Linked DNA regions of Homo sapiens: region 1 is linked to region 2. The links come from fine-mapping of genetic effects on gene expression. A gene starts in region 2. The other region holds a variant in brackets. All regions are shown on one strand. Distances are between the middles of the regions.

Region 1 (2,500 bases), 22 kb after region 2:
CCAGAAGAAAATAAATGACCATTAATCCTACAACCCATGTACAATGTCTGTTAAAGCTTTGATGTTTTTTCCCATAGCTATTCCTCTTCTCTTTCCATCCCATTTATCCCTTTCTGTCATATGCTGATCGTTAAGAGCAGGCATTGTGGAGCTATACTGTTGGGTTCAGGTGTTCACTTTGTCACTAGTTGTGGTTCTTGGAAAATCATTTAATTTTTTTGTGGCTTAGTTTACCTATCTGTAAAATGGAAATAAGAATAGTGCCTGTCTTACTGGTTGTTGGGGGATAGAATGAATTAATATATGTAATAGTGCCTGGCGTAAGTGCTATGTATATATTATATTACTTCCAAATTTTATTATTTCTTAAACTTTTTCTAATAACATACTTTAAGCATTTTCTCATATCATTAAAAATTTATTTGAAATCATAATTTGATAGGTCTAAACTATTCCTTTATATAGTTTTGCAAAAATTTAACCCTTTTGGATATTTAAATTATTTTCATTTTTTTCTGTCATATATAGATAATCTATATATTTGGTATAAATATGCAACGTATGTATGTAAGTAGTTGTTTCTGATTATTTTCTTAGGATAGAAGTAAAAAAATTTTAATTACTGTGTTAAAGAATGTGAATTTATTTTTAAAACTCATGACACATTTATAAGCTATTCAAAAAGATGATATCATTTTGCATCCCCATCTCCGTTAAGTGCTGCACACCCATCCAGTGTGAAATAGGCTTTACTTAGTCCTTGCCTGTTGGAAGGGTAAAATGATAACTTGTTTTGATATATATTTCTTAGCTTAACTATCAAGTTGAAAAACTTTTTCATGTTGATTATGCATTCATATTTCTAATTCTATGAATTTTAAAATTCATTATTTTGGCTTATTTTTTTCTGATACTTATGCTTTTCTTGTTCTTTTCGAGCCTTTATATACATATTAAGAACATTAATTTTTTAAATCAATTTTAAGCTCACGTTTCTTAGTTCTTTAACTTGATTTTTGAATCTTTTCTGTAGACAGTTTTTCTGAAGTCAGTTTACTCGATCTTTTTGCTTTGTGATTTTTTTTTT[TC/C]TACTTTTGTATGTAAAGTCTCTTCCCATTCCAGAATTAGATTAATAATCTGTTGTGTGCTTGTCTTTTTTTCTTTTTCATGCTTTAGTTTTTACACTTAACTGTTTAATTGATCTTTATTTTTGGTCTGTGATGTGGGATGAAAACTAAATTTTCTTTTTCTTCTCAGATATGTAACTGATTTTCCAGCATAATTTATTAAGCATTTTTTTTGTTTTTTTTCTTACTGGTTTGTTTCTTACTGTTTTATCATCTGTTGCATGCTTCTGTCTGTTAAGGTCAGTTTTCTGGCTATCTAGTCTGTTCCATTGATTTTTCTCTTCTTGTACTCATATTCATAGCCATATTCAATTTACATTATTATATATTTTTAATCACCTTTATCATCTGATAGGGTAAGTTTCAGATGTCATTCATTTTCAAAATAGTTTTAGCTATTTTAGCTCATTGTACATTTCAGTTTGTAAAGTTCCTAAATATAATTCACTGGAATTTTAGATAGAATTTTTCCTTTTATTAAAGAAAACAATTATAACATAATTTTTTAATCATAAAGGAAATAGGCTTTTAGAAATTATTTAAAATTTAATCAAAATGTATAATGTATGAAAAACAATAGTTGAAATTTCCAGAGGCAACTACTCAGCTTTCTGCTTTTATTTTAGTGTTTTCAGGTGATTATTACCATATCTCTAAATAATATTTTCATATTACTATTTTTAGAATAACCAACTTTGGACTTTATCTCTTGAATTTTTTTCTGTGCCAGATGAAGATTTAATTCACTCATAACATGCCTTGATCCTTCTTCTCTTTTCAGTTTTTGAGATGTTGACTACTATTTTCTGTGCTTTAGTTTTTGGTTTGTTGTTTTAATAACTTTAAGTAATTAAATCTATTTTGTGTGCTCCACCTCTGATTTGCAGTACAAGATTAGTGCCCCTTTTCTTTCTCTTTACCTGTGTCTCTCTTTTTTATTGTTTGGTTAGTTGAGAATTGAGAATTCTCAACAATTTTTTTGTCATAGTTAATAATACATTCTGTTCTATAACACAATGAAGTCTTTTATGTATAGACTGATTATGAAGCTTCAAAACAAAATACATGATTATGAATGTGTAAATTTTATTGACTGTGGAGCCAAGTAATATACTGTAATTATATTTGCTTCATCACAATCCCAATTCAGTGACTCTCCCCCTCACCATTTGAGTATGTTTATAGCAAGGCCAGTGGATTCTACTTTACTCCCTCTTCTAGTTACTAAATACACTATTTATTTTAATTTCATATTTGGACTGTGATTTTCTTGAGCAATTTCAGGAATTTTAGATTTCTTTGTTTTCCTTTTAGAAAGAAAAGTAATAAATTGTCACCATATCCGTAATAGCTAGCTTCTTTCTTATTAATTT
Region 2 (3,028 bases):
ATATGGCAACACAAAGACTTATAGACTAATGCTATGAACATAGGAACATTATTCATAATAACGTAAAAGTAAAACAACTCAAATGTCTATTAACTAACAAAAGGGTAAACAAAATTATTTGCAACAACAAATAAATGAAGTACTAATACAAGCTACAATAGGGATAATCCTCAAAAACATTACCCAAAGTGAAAGTCAGTCACAAAGACCACATATTATATATAAAATGTCCAGAAAAGGCAAGTGTATACAAACAGAAAGTAGATTAATGATTGCCTAGGGCTGGAAGGGGGAGGAGAAATGGGGGAGAACAGGGAGTGACTCCGAATGGTTTCAGGGTTTCCTTTTGGGGTAATGAAAATGTTTAAAATCAGGCAGGCTGGGCGCGGTGGCTCATACCTGTAATCCCAGCACTTTGGGAGGTCGAGGCGGCGGATCACTTGAGGTCAGGAGATCCAGACCATCCTGGCCAACATGGTGAAACCCCATCTCTACAAACAATACAAAAACTAGCGGCCGGGCGCGGTGGCTCACGCCTGTAATCCCAGCACTTTGAGAGGCCGGGTGGATCACGAGGTCAGGAGATCGAGACCACGGCGAAACCCCGTCTCTACTAAAAAAAAAATACAAAAAATTAGCCCGGCGCGGTGGCGGGCGCCTATAGTCCTAGCTACTCGGGAGGCTGAGGCAGAAGAATGGCGTGAACCCGGGAGGCGGAGCTTGCAGTGAGCCGAGATCGCGCCACTGCACTCCAGCCTGGGCGACAAGAGCGAGACTCCGTCTCAAAAAAAAAAAAAACAAAAACCTAGCTGGGCGTGGTGGCACGTGCCTGTGGTCCCAGCTACTCTGGAGGCAGAGGCATGAGAATCGCTTGAACCCGGGAGGTGGAGTTTGCAGTAAGCCGAGATGGCACCACTGCATTCCAGCCTGGGTGACAGAGCCAGACTGTCTCCAAAAGAAAAAAAAAAAGGCCGGGCGCGGCGGCTCACGCCTGTAATCCCAACACTTTGGGAGGCTGAGGCAGGCGGATCACGAGGTCAGGAGATCGAGACCAACCTGGCTAACACGGTGAAACCCCGCCTCTACTAAAAATACAAAAAAATTAGCCGGGCGTGGTGGCGGGCGCCTGTAGTCTCAGCTACTCGGGAGGCTGAGGCAGGAGAATCGCTTGAACCCGGGAGGTGGAGGTTGCAGTAAGCCGAGATCGCTCCACTGCACTCCAGCCTGGGCGACAGAACGAGACTCAGCCTCAAAAAAAAAAAAAAAAAAAAAAAAAAAAAAAAAAAAAAAAAAAAAAATTAAAATCAGATTATAGGGATGATTGCACAACTCGATAGATGTATTAAAAACTACTGCTTTGTACATTTTAAGCAGGTGAACTTTATGGTATGTAAGTTATATCTCACCAGAACTCTAAAAATCCAGCTTGGGATATATTAGTTTTCCTAAATATTCTTGAGTTCTCTTAACTCTGTTCTGCTGTCCTGGGAGTGAAGGCGTGTCTGAGCAGATTCTAGGGGATGTCAGAAACCTCAGCGTTCGTGAATGAAAGGTAGAAGAGCAGGAAGGGGAATAGATCTTTGTCAGAGCATCATTTTCTCCCTGTAGACTCGCCCAAAGTAAGACCACGCCTTCCCTAGTTTCCTAGCAACCGGTTTCCTACCCTGGCAATTCCTCAAGGCTCACTCTTTTTCGTCACTTCCGCTCGGCGACAGGAAGTGAGGTCAGACCGGTTGCTTTCCCGGGAGTTCGGCGTTTGCTGGGGCTGCAGCAGCTGAAGTGTAGTGTTTTCTTGGGACTGGCGGTCTGCACTTCTCTCCCGGGTTCCATCTCCCCCCGCCCGGTGGTGAGGCCCTCGAGGAGGGCTCGGACGGGTGTAGCGATCCGCGCTAGAGGAAGACGAGGCCCGGGAACGCATGTCCCCCAGGGCAGGTTAGGGGGCTGGAGGGGTCAAATCCCGGGGTACTTGTGGAGACTCTTTAGCGTGGCTTCTTCTCTCTGCTGAGACCCCGAGAGCTTTCCCAGTTCTCCTCCCAGGACCACCGGGGTTCCTGAAGATCGGGACTTTTCTGCGCCCCTCCACCAACAGCCCATCTCCTGTCTATGAAGAAAGACCCTTCGTAGAAACAACTTCCCCGCTGCTGACGCGTTTTCCCGTCCCGTCCCCGAAGTAGTCTACTATGACCTCGTTGTGAGCCTCTGAACGATTTTGACACTTTCCCGAGGCCTAGGGTAAATGTTTATGTGTGCTCAAGGTCGTGTGTGTATATGTGTGGCATTTATTTCCTGCAAAACCTGAGTTAGCAGAACCCTGGGGTACGTTTAGCTAGTGTATACTTTGGTCTGCTTTTCTTTAACATCTGTGGCAAGGTTTCTTGTTGCAGACCAGCGAAGTTTGCACCTTCTTTTAGCTGGGTGAGAGGGCACACTGGAATTAGGCAGGAAGTGTCCAGGAGTTAACTGAATTTTTAGATCTTAGTTTGACCTTTTCAGTTTTCAGTTTTTCTTTTTTTTTTTTTATTTTTTGAGACGGACGGAGTCTCGCTCTGTCACCCAGGCTGGAGTGCGGTGGCGGGATCTCCACTCACTGCAACCTCTGCGTCCTGGGTTCAAGCAATTCTGCGTCAGCCTCACGAGTAGCTGGGATTACAGGCACCCACTACCACGCCCGGCTAATTTTTGTATTTTTAGTAGAGACGGGATTTTAACCATGTTGGCCAGCCCCGTCTTGAGCTCCTGACCTCGTGATCCTCCCGCCTCGGCCTCCCGAAGTGCTGGGATTACAGGCGTGAGCCACCGCGCCCGGCCAGTTTTAAGCTTTTAATGTGTCTCTTTCTTATTTCCAAGAAACTACAGATTCTTGGACAAGAACTATGTCATATGGTAACTTTGTAATTCTCATAGCCCCAAGCACAGCACGGAACACATAGTAAAGGCTCATTAATATTTTAAATTTAAATATGAGAAAATAACACAAACTAACATTTTTGGCTTAAAGTTGAAGAGGCCTATCTAAATATAGTTCAGC

Which allele goes with the higher level. Alleles are on the strand shown, and positions count from the first base shown. SD is a standard deviation of normalised expression in the study named.
In carriers of allele TC in region 1, the expression in NK cells of the gene that starts at base 1,721 in region 2 tends to be lower than with C alone (large effect, 1.0 SD a copy in Schmiedel 2018).

The links. PIP is the estimated chance that this variant, and not a neighbour inherited with it, causes the effect.
Region 1: its variant is fine-mapped to the expression of PIK3R4 in NK cells (Schmiedel 2018, PIP 0.95).

Annotation. Positions count from the first base shown.
Region 1 is chr3:130,724,174-130,726,673 of GRCh38, reverse strand. The region is part of intron 6 of PIK3R4 (phosphoinositide-3-kinase regulatory subunit 4); the gene reads left to right. Among named protein-coding and RNA genes, the nearest start is that of PIK3R4, 21 kb to the left of the region's middle. The variant TC/C (reference allele first, on the strand shown) is at 1,088.
Region 2 is chr3:130,745,522-130,748,549 of GRCh38, reverse strand. It overlaps PIK3R4 (phosphoinositide-3-kinase regulatory subunit 4), which reads left to right and starts at 1,721. Exons shown (of 20, transcript NM_014602.3): 1 at 1,721-2,232. RefSeq lists a silencer at 697-746 and an enhancer at 1,981-2,040.